Homo sapiens: one gene and its partners. The protein of the gene in region 2 purifies or fractionates together with the protein of the main gene of each other region. This does not show direct contact. Each region holds a gene or a part of one and is shown on either strand. Other genes may lie near its edges. The genes, in order: COPS7B, DET1 and STK40.

Region 1 (3,825 bases), on a different chromosome or scaffold from region 2:
GGGAACATTTGGCAAAGAGGCACATCACCAACAGTGAAATAAATCGTGATTAAAATGTCCTCAGAAAGAGGGACCCAAGAATTCTACACTCTGCTGTTATTCATTTATAAAACCACAAATATTTTCATAAAAACTTTGGGAATACAGCTCCATGAACCTTCTTGAATAAACCAGTAGAGGATGAACTTCAGCCAACTAAGTGAGAAATGAAGAAAATGTAATAGAAGTACTGGCAAAATGCTATGACACTACCGTGTGCAGTATAGCTTTCTTTCACTTAACAAAATACAGACTCGTAAATACTTAAGCAGCTCTTGAACATTTTACCACGTCAGAACAGATATCCTCTGTGACACTTGAACCCTATTCTATTAGGAAGGTTCTCCAGTTTTCCAGTTTTTTGAATTGGTTCCTAGTTTGGGTTTCAGTGCTACTCTGAACAGCCCTTTATGTTTACCTTTGCATACTTCTGTGAACATCTATGGAAGATACTCCTAGAAGTGAGCTTTCCAGATCAAAGTCGATTTACATTTTACATTTGAATCAGTACTGCTATATTGCCTGCTGAAAAGTGACTATTCCAAACCTTTGCTCCTCAGTTCGTTGAGAGGAAGAAACAGCAGGAAGAGGATGGTGGTGGTAGGGAAGAACAGTGCAGTCAAATAAGTAATAGCTTTTTTAGTCTTTTTTTTTTTTTTTTTTGGAGACAGAGTCTTACTCTGTTGTACAGGATGGAGTATAGTGGCACAATCACAGCTCACTGCAGCCTCAACTGCCCAGGCTTAAGTGATCCTCCCACCTCAGCCTCCTGAGCAGCTTGGACCACAGGCGCTTGCCACCATGCCTGGCTAATTTTTAAAAACTTATTTGTAGAGACAAGGTTTCACCACGTTGTCCAGGCTGTTTTCAAACTCCCAGGGTCAACTGACCCTCCTACCTTGGCCTCCCAAAGTGCTGGGATTACAGGCATGAGCCACCACACCCAGCCAGTTTTCTACATAGTGAAAAGGAGTTGTCAGGGTCAAAAGTTCTCAACAGTCAGAATATTATGAGCTTGAGGGTAAGAGACAGTCCAAATGCAAAGACAAAACAATGCTATGAGGGTGAGACAAAAATTGGGTTCCTGGAGGAGAGCCATCATCTGCAGAATCCACCTTAACTAGATCATAAATTGTTTTTTGTTGTCACTATTTTGAGACAGGGGGAAAAGCCATGCCCTAAACTTCTGTAACCTCAATCAACGCTGTAGCCTTTCTGAAGAGAGAATGACAGAGGACTGTGGGCTGGAACAGTCATTACAGAGGGCAGGCTGGGCATGGTGGCTCACACCTATACTTCTAGCACTTTGGGAGGCTGAGCAAAGAGAATTGCTCAAGAGCAGGTGTTCAAGACCAGCCTGGGCAACATAGTGGGACCCTGTCTTTCTTAAAAAAAAAAAAAAAAATTTTAGCCAGGTATGGTGGCATGCACCTGTAGTCCCAGCTACTCAAGTGGCTGAGGCAGGAGGATCGCTTAAGCCCAAGAGGTAGAGGCTACAGTGAGCCATGTCTGCACCACTGCACTCCAGCCTAGATGACATTCAAGTAAGACCTTATCTCAACAAAAAGACATAAAAGAAAAAAACATGTGCCTGGTGTGGTGGCACATGCCTATAGTCCTAGCTATTCAGGAGGCTGAGGCAGGAGGATCACTTAAGTCCAGGAGTTTGAGGCTGCAGTGAACTATGATTACACCACTGATTCCAGCCTGGGTGACACAGCAAGACCCAGTGCCTGGAAATATATAAATATATATATATATATATATATAAAATTTAAAAAAAAATATATATATATATATATAATAAACAGGGAGGGGAATTCAACTCTGGGTTTATCCAGTGTCCTGCCAGACAACAAAACACAATCTGGGAACCCCAGAACCCTGAGGCATCTCGCCCTCCCAGCGGCTCACTGCCACTTTGGTGTACCTCATTCAGTGAGTCACCTGGCAAGGTGGTGAGTGAATGATCTGGAGCAAGCCAATGGCTTATCACTCTTTCTCTGATAAAAGAAATATTATTTGTTTTAAGACTTTTTTTAAAAAATAGAAATGGGATCTTGCTATGTTGCCCAGGCTGGTCTCAAACTTCTGGCATGAACCAATTTGCCTGCCTCAGCCTCCTAAGTAGCTGGGACTACAGACACATACTATCATGCCCAGCTAAGGCATATTTTGATGACATTGGAGGAAAAATTAAGAAATTTGACTTCTCAGGGAACACTGCTTTATAAAATAACATTCTAAGGCTTCTCCAATTTGATATATTTTCTAAATATCCAGAAGAAAATGAACTAAAATCATAATAAGAGGTAACGACATGACTTTAGTTTATTTATTTGCATGTCAGTTACCTCTAACTTCCAAAGAAGATCCTGCAATTTAACATTACCTGAGGGAATGTGTTTTAAAGTCTCCCCAAAAGCTGACAAAATTTTAATCAAATAAGACATTAGAAAACAAACAAGTTTTTGTTTCAAGGACTGTATTTCCAAAATGGGGTATCTTTCCAAGCAAATAATTACCTTTCCCATTTGGCAAAATAGCTTTATTAAAAATTAAAAAAACAAAACCAAAAAAAATTCCTAATTTCATCTTGTCTGATAAGCACTATTTAGCCTTATTTCCTCAAGTTATTTGTGTAATAATTTTTACTAAACAATCAGCTTAGGCCAGGCACAGTGGCTCACGCCTGTAATCCCAGCACTTTGGGAGGCTGAGGCAGGCAGATCACGAGGTCAGGAGATCGAGACCATCCTGGCTAACGCGGTGAAACCCCATCTCTACTAAAAATATAAAAAGTTAGCCGGGTGACGTGGCGGGCACCTGTAGTCCCAGCTACTCGGGACGCTGAGGCAGGAGAATGGCGTGAACCCGGGAGGCAGAGCTTGCAGTGAGCCAAGATCGCGCCACTGCACTCCTGCCTGGGCTACAGAGCCAGACTCTGTCTCAAAAAAAAAAAAAAAAATCAGCTTATACTACAAATAGTTTTCTACATTATTTAACATGTCTTAGATTTACTGACAGTCTCATAACCCCTGCATGAGTAAGGAAAAGGCATTAATCAATCCCCAAATAATGGTTATATTTTCAATCCGCTTCACCTATGTTTTTGTAGCATAAAGTCATTATCAGCCTATCAGAAAGTGACAACCGGCATTTATTTCTCTCTTTAGAGTGGCCCAAGGTGATTTGGGCCGGCTTTGGACTCAGAGTATCTATGGCTGGGCTGAGTGATGAGTCCCTGACCTGCCAGCCAAGGAGCAAACTCTGCCTGTGGCACATCCACCAACGGCAACGCTCCGCTGCCAGCCTCTCAGCAACTGACCAGTTCAACTGACTCCCAAGGCTTTGCTGTTTTACTCTTTTTCTTTTCAAAGCTCAACACTTCCAATGCTTCTCCTTCACAGAGCCACAAACTCATGGTTCTCACTCTGGTCCTGAGGGAGCCCGCGCATCATCCTTCTGCAGTCACAGAAGGGCTGACCCTCTGCTTCATTTCTGTACTGCCACTCCCTACCATAACGCAGCCTCCCTCTCTCATGGTGACTCAATTCTATTTAAAAGCCTTTGAGATTCAAGATCCTGTCAAAAGCTTTTGAACAAATAAGTAGACAGAAGCATGGACACTTTCCCCTGTTATTCAGATGCCTATTTACTTCCTCAAGCCATTTTCTCCTGTAGAAACTGCTCTCATTCAGCTTTTTTAGGGGCTCAGTAACCCTGACATGCAATAAAAAGAAATAAGACTTGGCCCAGGGAAAAACTTGGTTTTTTCTCTAGTTC
Region 2 (3,600 bases):
CGTGTATTTGCAAACACCACTTGGAGGGCCGGTACCTCTAAGGAAGTCTCCTTTGCAGTTGATTTTATGTATACTGTTCCCAAAGCCAGCCTGTACCCACGAAGAGCAACACAATCTGCTTGTCCCAAAAGCAGGAAGTGTCGACCTTGTAGCAGGATTTGGGTGCTCTGGGAGCCAAACTGGATGTGTGGAAGTGCCAAAGGTGCAGAAAAAGAACTCCAAAATGTTGACTTTTACCTCTGTCCTGGGAATCACCCTGACGCTAGCTGTCGAGATACTTATCAGTTTTTCTGCCCTGATTGGACATGTGTAAACTTAGCCACCTACTCTGGGGGATCAACCAGATCTTCATTCGGTAACTCGTGCTTCTCATCCTAAATTATGTACTAAAAAAAAAATTGTAATCCTCTTACAATAATATTACGGCATGTCATGGAAATTAACATTTTATATTCCAGGATTTGATGTTGGGACTATGTTCACCATCCAAAATAAATAAATAAATAATAGAAATAAAAATCCTGGTCTCATGGAGCCCACCCAAGCCAATCGGGCCTTTAACTGCTCTAGGTGACCCTATGTTCCAGAAACCCCCTGACAAAGTTGATTTAACTGTTCCTCCACCATTCTTAGTCATAAAAGATACCCTCCAAAAAGTTCGAGAATATCTAGATAGGCAACAACAGGAACGAGAAAATAACATCCCCTGGTATCAAAACATGTTCCACTGGAACCCCTGGCTAACTACTTTAATCACTGGGTTAGCTGGACCTCTCCTCATCATACTATTAAGTTTAATTTTTAGGCCTTGTATATTAAATTGGTTTCTTAATTTTGTAAAACAATGCATAGCTTCTGTCAAACTTATGTATCTTAAGACTCCCCTTGTTAAAACTGAGGAATCAATGATTTGATTCCCCAAAAACACAAGTGGGGAATGTAATGCCCAACCTGGTTTTTACTAACTCTGTTTTTAGACTCTCCCTTAGCTAAGAGAGCCAGACAGACTCCATCTTGGCTCTTTCACTGGCAGCCCCTTCCTCAAGGACTTAACTTGTGCAAGCTGACTCCCAGCACATCCAAGAATGCAATTAACTGATAAGATACTGTGGCAAGCTATATCCACAGTCCCCAAGAATTCATCTGATTGATAACACCCAAAGCCCCACGTCTATCACCTTGTAATAGTCATAAAGCCCCTGCACCTGGAACTGTTTACTTTCCTGTAACCATTTATCCTTTTAACTTTTTGACTACCTAACTTCTGTAAAATTGTTTTAACTAGACCCCCCCTCCCCTTCCTAAACCAAGGTATAAAAGTTAATCAAGCCCCTTCCTCAGGGCCGAGAGAATTTTGAGCGTTAGCGGTCTCTCGGTCACCGGCTAATAAAGGACTCTTAATTCGTCTCAAAGTGTGGCGTTTTCTCTAACACCCCTGGGTACAACACACTAACTCACTGTGTGGTACTAAGTCCTTTACCCTTGCTGGGTCTCAGTTTCCCTATGGGAGAAGGTGCACATGTCCCTCAATTCCTTGCGACGGCCTCTAAACCAGAAGGGGATGCCAAGGGGCGGGCACACATACCCAAAAGGGCGCCCCCGGAAAGAAAAGCCTGGGGCGGGGCCTCAAAGGGAAGAGAATGCTGAGGGAGGGCGGGGGCCGCGGGGCCTCTGGGCATCAGCGTCATGCAGGGAGGAGCCTGCCGGGGAGGGTCTGACGGGCTTGGAGGCTGGGCCAAAAATGGTAAGTCCTCACCTGTCTGGTCCGGGCTCAAAGAGCCAGGGCGAGGGATGCCCCAGCCTGTTCTGTGCGCGCCTCCCCCTGCCCCGCCCCCGCCATGCCCCAGGACTCCTGCACCCGCGGCTGCACGTTCCCGTTTCCGCCAGCCACCGGAACTGCGGCCCAGCAAAAAGGGAAGTAGGGGAGAGCACGGCACTGTTCAGCCAACACTAAGAGACAGGTACAGCGCACCCTTGTGCCCGGAGGAAGGATCGAAGCCGTAGAGGCTCCATGGCTCCGAAGGAAAAATTAAAATGGCACCTAACCTGGCAATCTCTGTGAGTCCCAATGGCAGTGTCTCTGCACCTGCTGGGCACATTTGAAAAAATATGAATAGAATTAATTTTTCACCTATTGATTAGATGCTGAGAAACTTCCTACTCTGTTATCTTCTAGATGGCGAGCACCTTGAAGACTGAGATTGTATTGATCATCTCTGACTAACAGGGAATTTGCCTTGCTAGTTTTAAGATGGAGTTGATTTTAAAATGATGTCACTCTGGCTCTCGTAGGCTCCTGCTTCCCTAACAAAAAGACCTTCAACATCATTAATTATCAGAGAAATGCAAATCAAAACAATGAGATACTACTTCATACCCCTTAGGATGGCTATAATATCTTTAAAAGGAAGATATCACATACTGGTGAGGAGGTGGAGAAATCAAAAGCCTCATACACTGCTGCTGGGATGGGTGCAGTCACTTTCATGGGCGTCCGTGTGAAGAGACCACCAAACAGGCTTTGTGTGAGCAATAAAGCTGTTTATTTCACCTGGGTGCAGGTGGGCTGAGTCCGAAAAGAGAGTCAGCGAAGGGAGATAAGGGTGGGGCTGTTTTATAGGATTTGGGTAGGTAAAGGAAAATTACAGTCAAAGGGGGCTTGTTCTCTCACGGGCAGGAGTGGGGGTCGCAAGGTGCTCAGTGGGGGTGCTTTTTGAGCCAGAATGAGCTAGGAAAAGGACTTTTACAAGGTAATGTCATCACTTAAGGCAAGGACCGGTCATTTACACTTCTTTTGTGGTGGAATGTCATCAGTTAAGGTGGGGCAGGGCATACTCACTTCTTTTGTGATTCTTCACTTATTTCAGGCCATCTGGGCTTATATGTGCAAGTCACAAGGGATGCGATGGCTTGGCTTGGGCTCAAAGGCCTGACATTCCTGCCTTCTTATATTAATAAGAAAAATAAAAATAGTGTTGAAGTGTTGGGGCGGCAAAAATTTTTGGGGGGTGGTATGGAGAGAGAATGAGCGATGTTTCTCAGGGCTGCCTCAAGCGGGATTAGGGGTGGCGTGGGAACCTAGAGTGGGAGAGATTAAGCTGAAGGGAGGTCTTGTGGTAAGGGGTGATATTGTGGGGATGTTAGAAGAAACATTTGTCATATAGAATGATTGGTGATGGCCTGGATATGGTTTTGGATGAATTGAGAAACCAAATGGAATAACAAAAGGAGAAAAACAGGTATAAAAGGTCTAAGAATTGGGATGACTCAGGATATCTGATTAGAGAGTGCCTAAGGAGATTCAGCATAGTCCTGCCAGCAAAGATTATTTATTTACTTCAAGAGTTAAGAGTGGCAGTTTGTGGATAGCACCTGGAGATATCAGCTGTGATGGCTTAGAAAAACAATGTAAACAAGAGCAGGGCAGTGTAAACAAGAGCAGGGCATGTATGAGTAGTTGAGAACGGTGAATAGGAGTATGACTAGACAGAAGATAGCAGGGATGACAAGTTTTTTTGGGGCACAGTCTAAGTTGGTCTGGTGTCTGGAATAAGACTGGGGCCTAATAAAAAGGAGCATCTATACAGGAGCTTAAATGGG
Region 3 (3,825 bases), on a different chromosome or scaffold from region 2:
TAAGTTCTGGGGAGCCTGAACTCACACCCAAGACTGACTGTCATGGCCAGGAGAGAATGAACACCGTTGGGTTGTAGCCTCTTTTTTTTTTTTTTTTGAAACGGAGTCTCGCTCTCTCACCCAGGCTGGAGGGCAGTCACTGCAAGCTCCGCCTCCTGGGTTCACGCCATTCCCTGCCTCAGCCTCCCGAGTAGCTGGGACTACAGGTGCCCACCACCACGTCCGGCTAATTTTTTGTATTTTTAGTAGATACAGGGTTTTACCGTGTTAGCCAGGATGGTCTTGATCTCCTGACCTCGTGATCTGCCTGCCTCGGCCTCCTAAAGTGCTGGGATTACAGGTGTGAGCCACCGCGCCCGGCCTGGGTTGTAGCCTCTTTAGGGAGTGGGAACACCTGTGTTCCCCTCAGGACGTACGACCTCAACCCAAAAGAACAGATTCACTTGCTGGGGGAAAAATAAGGCTGCCCCAATTTATTAAAAGGAGACCTAGAAATTCTTTAACAATAATAATAATAAAGGATAGTCTTTGAGGCAGCAATTCACTTCTAGAAATTTATCCTGCAGATGATACCTAAGGTGGGCAAAATCATATGTATGAAGAAAGTCACTTCAGCAGAAGTGTTTAGAGAGTAGAATGCAGAAAATAACCCAAGTGTTTGTTAGCAGAGAGCTTGTTGAATAAATTACACTCACAGTGGGACACATCATAGCCACAAATGACCCAGACCTGCATGTGCCAAAGTGGAACTATCTCTAAGATAGTAAGTAAATCACAGCAAGCAATTGCATCCTTTCCCCTCTAGGATCTTGATTACAGAGCCTGGGAGGATATGCGGGGGCTGCTGTGGGCCCTCGACTACCTTCGAGGTCAGAGTCTCACCTGAGCAGGTGGAGGAGAAAGAAGTGCTCTTGTTTCAGATCATTTTCTCGTTTACTTTCTTTACACCACAAACCCAAGGACAAATCATGTAAAAAAATCTCCCAAATTCCAAAGGGCCTGTTTGAAGGCCCGCCCACCAGCACACCCCTCACTATAGTCCAATCCAGCTGAGGGACAGCTTCTGGCTCCCTTAGAACTTCAAGGGTCAAGGACACTGGGCAGCTTTCTCTCCCTTCCCTGAAGGTTCTGAGCAAGTCCTGGGTGGCCTCTGGCAGATATCAGTCCTTCCTGAGAAGAAGGACTGAATCTGCTGAGCCAGCTTCAGGCAGCAAATCCAATTTCCAGACCTCTCTCTAGATAAGATCTCCAGGGGGCACTGAGAAAGCCTCTCTCCCCTGAGGGTCTCTGCTGTTCAGGACCCCATCAGTGGGCTGTAGTATGCTGAATCGGGGTGGATATTGCCAGAGGGAAGGGTTGCTCTTAGGGCTATTGGAAGGCTGAAGATTTATCGCTTTATAGATGTGAAACATGAAGAGGTTCACCTCCCTGGTTAAATCTGGGCAGAGGAAAGGTGAAGGAAGGAAAGCTGCCCTTCTCCCAGGTGCTGATTCAGGCGAAAGCAAAGGGAAGCCTGGCCCAAGTCCAGACAGGGGTCTACAAGACCTTCCAACTGATCCTCTCCCGAGAGGGTGTGCCCAGGGTTTACTGAACGAAGCTGGCAGATTTCACTGGCCATTATCTTCTCCTTGAGCCATCCCTATCTCTGCACTATCATTCACTCTGTCACCCAAACCAAGGACCTCAAGGTTACCTGTCACCATTCCTCCTCCCTCTGGCATCACTTCCAAACACTCCCAGAGTCCAGTTGATTTCCCCCCAAACAGCTCATCTCTGCTCTTCTTCTCAACCCTATTGCCTCTGCCCTGATCCAAGCCCCTCTCAGCCCTTGCTGGGATTACTGCAACAGCCTCCTATGGGGACTCCAACCTCTCCCCAACCCACTCCATCCTCCAAAGCAGATGCAGGTCTAATGGTATGTTTCCTCCACTTAATGCAAGGCATCCATCACCAACAGAATACAAAATTCAAGCATCTGCGCCCTAGTGCCTGCCTACCTCTCAGGCACATCCTGCAGTCAGTCCCTTCACACTCTGGGCTAGAACTCCTGTGGTTCCTAAAGTGCCACACAAATTACCACATATCCGTGCTTGTGCCAGGCTGCTCCCCCTGCCTGGAGGGCTTCATAGACCCCCAGAAAACTCTATTCATTCTTCACGATCCAATTCAAGTTCTTTTTTTGAGACAGGGTCTCACTCTGTTGTCCAGGCTCGAGTGCAGTGGTGTGATTACAGCTTACTGGGAGTTGGGAACTCCCAGGTTCAAGTGATCCTCCCACTTCAGCCTTCCAAGTAGCTGGAACTACAGGTACATGCCACCACGCTTAACTAATTTTTTTCTTTTTTAATTTTTGTAGAGATGGGGTCCCACTATGTTGGCCAGGCTGGTCTTCAATTTCTGGGCTCAAGCGATCCTCCTGCCTCGGCCTCCCAAAGTGTTGGGATTACAGGTGTGAGCTGCTGTGCCCAGTCCCAGTTCAAGTTCTAAGGGCTCTCTGAAGTTCTCCCCAGTCTCCTCCTCATCCTAGAGCTCGATCACTTCTTCCACTGGGTTCCCCCACATGCTATAGACTTCTGTGAGAGACTTGCCAAACTGTGCACATGTTAACTGGTTAGGAGCCTGCCCCTAGATCACAACCTCCTCCATGGTAGGGCCTGCCTCTCCATCCTCCTCCTGCCCCCAGGACCCAGCAGAGCCCCAGCCACACATGGGAGCTCATGTATGTGGAATCAGGGCTCTGTATTTTGAGCTACCACACTCATCAGTGTGTGTGATGCCTCTTGATGCTGCTTATTCAGGTACCAGACTAGGGTTGCTAGCAGGGACACACAGAGAAGAAATTCTAAATACATTTACTCCCATGTATACTTTTTTTTTTTTGAGACAGGGTCTCACTGTGTCACCTAAACTGGAATGCAGTGGTGCAATCTCGGCTCACTGCACCCTTGATCTCCTGGGCTCAAGAGATCCTTCCACCTCAGCCTCCCTAGTAGCTGGGACTACAGGTGCGTATGACCATGCCCAGCTAATTTTTGTATTTTTTGTAGAGACGGGTTTCGCCATGTTGCCCAGACTGGTCTTGAACTCCTAGGCTCAAGCGATCTGCCCATCTCGGCCTCCCAAAGTGCAGGGATTACAGGCGTTAGCCACCGCGCCTGGCCAACCCATGTATACTTTAAAGTACTATTTTTTTCTCAGCAGTCCTACTTCTATTTTTAAAAATAGTTCTTTTAAAGAGCCAAACTGAATCATCTGCATGGCTCCCATACAGACTGGGTAAACTCCCCTTAGATTTTCTTTTCAGAAAGAATAAAATAAAACTCTGTGATCTTGTGATCCCTCAGGACACTTCTGACAGCTCAATGGGACATAGTTCTAGTTGCCATGAATTGCTGCAACTAATTCCTAAAAGTTCTTTCCTGTAGCCTGTAATAAGAGCTAACATTTACTACTCAGTGTCTGTTAAGTACTCATCCTGTAACATCTTACTTACTCCTCACAACTGCCCTATTACGAAGGTACTCTTATTGTCCCCATTTTACAGATGAGAAAGCTGTGGTGGAGAGAATAAGTAATCCCTAGTGACCAGCAGGGATAGAAGTAGAACACAGATCTGTCTGATGGCAGAGCCAAATAAGCTTTTTTTTTGAGACAGAGTTTCGCTCTTGTTGCCCAGGCTGGAGTGCAATGATGCAATTTTGGTTCACCGCAACCTCCGCCTCCCAGGTTCAAGAGATTCTCCTGTCTCAGCCTCCTGAGTAGCTGGGATTACAAGCATGCACCACCACGTCCGGCTAATTTTGTATTTTTAGTAGAGAAGGGGTT

Evidence for each region.
Region 1: the proteins of DET1 (region 2) and COPS7B purify together in Homo sapiens (affinity purification with mass spectrometry; 2 studies listed by BioGRID and IntAct, with this or other methods). This does not show direct contact.
Region 3: the proteins of DET1 (region 2) and STK40 purify together in Homo sapiens (affinity purification with mass spectrometry; 2 studies listed by BioGRID and IntAct, with this or other methods). This does not show direct contact.

The regions. Positions count from the first base shown.
Region 1 is NC_000002.12:231,803,431-231,807,255, reverse strand, and holds part of COPS7B (COP9 signalosome complex subunit 7b), read right to left. Parts: intron 1-3,825. UniProt on the Homo sapiens protein: Component of the COP9 signalosome complex (CSN), a complex involved in various cellular and developmental processes.
Region 2 is NC_000015.10:88,544,784-88,548,383, forward strand, and holds the start of DET1 (DET1 homolog), read right to left. Parts: upstream 1,899-3,600; 5' UTR 1,757-1,898; intron 1,593-1,756; exon of another isoform or gene 1,481-1,592; intron 1-1,480. UniProt on the Homo sapiens protein: Component of the E3 ubiquitin ligase DCX DET1-COP1 complex, which is required for ubiquitination and subsequent degradation of target proteins. The complex is involved in JUN ubiquitination and degradation.
Region 3 is NC_000001.11:36,379,318-36,383,142, forward strand, and holds part of STK40 (serine/threonine-protein kinase 40), read right to left. Parts: intron 1-3,825. UniProt on the Homo sapiens protein: May be a negative regulator of NF-kappa-B and p53-mediated gene transcription.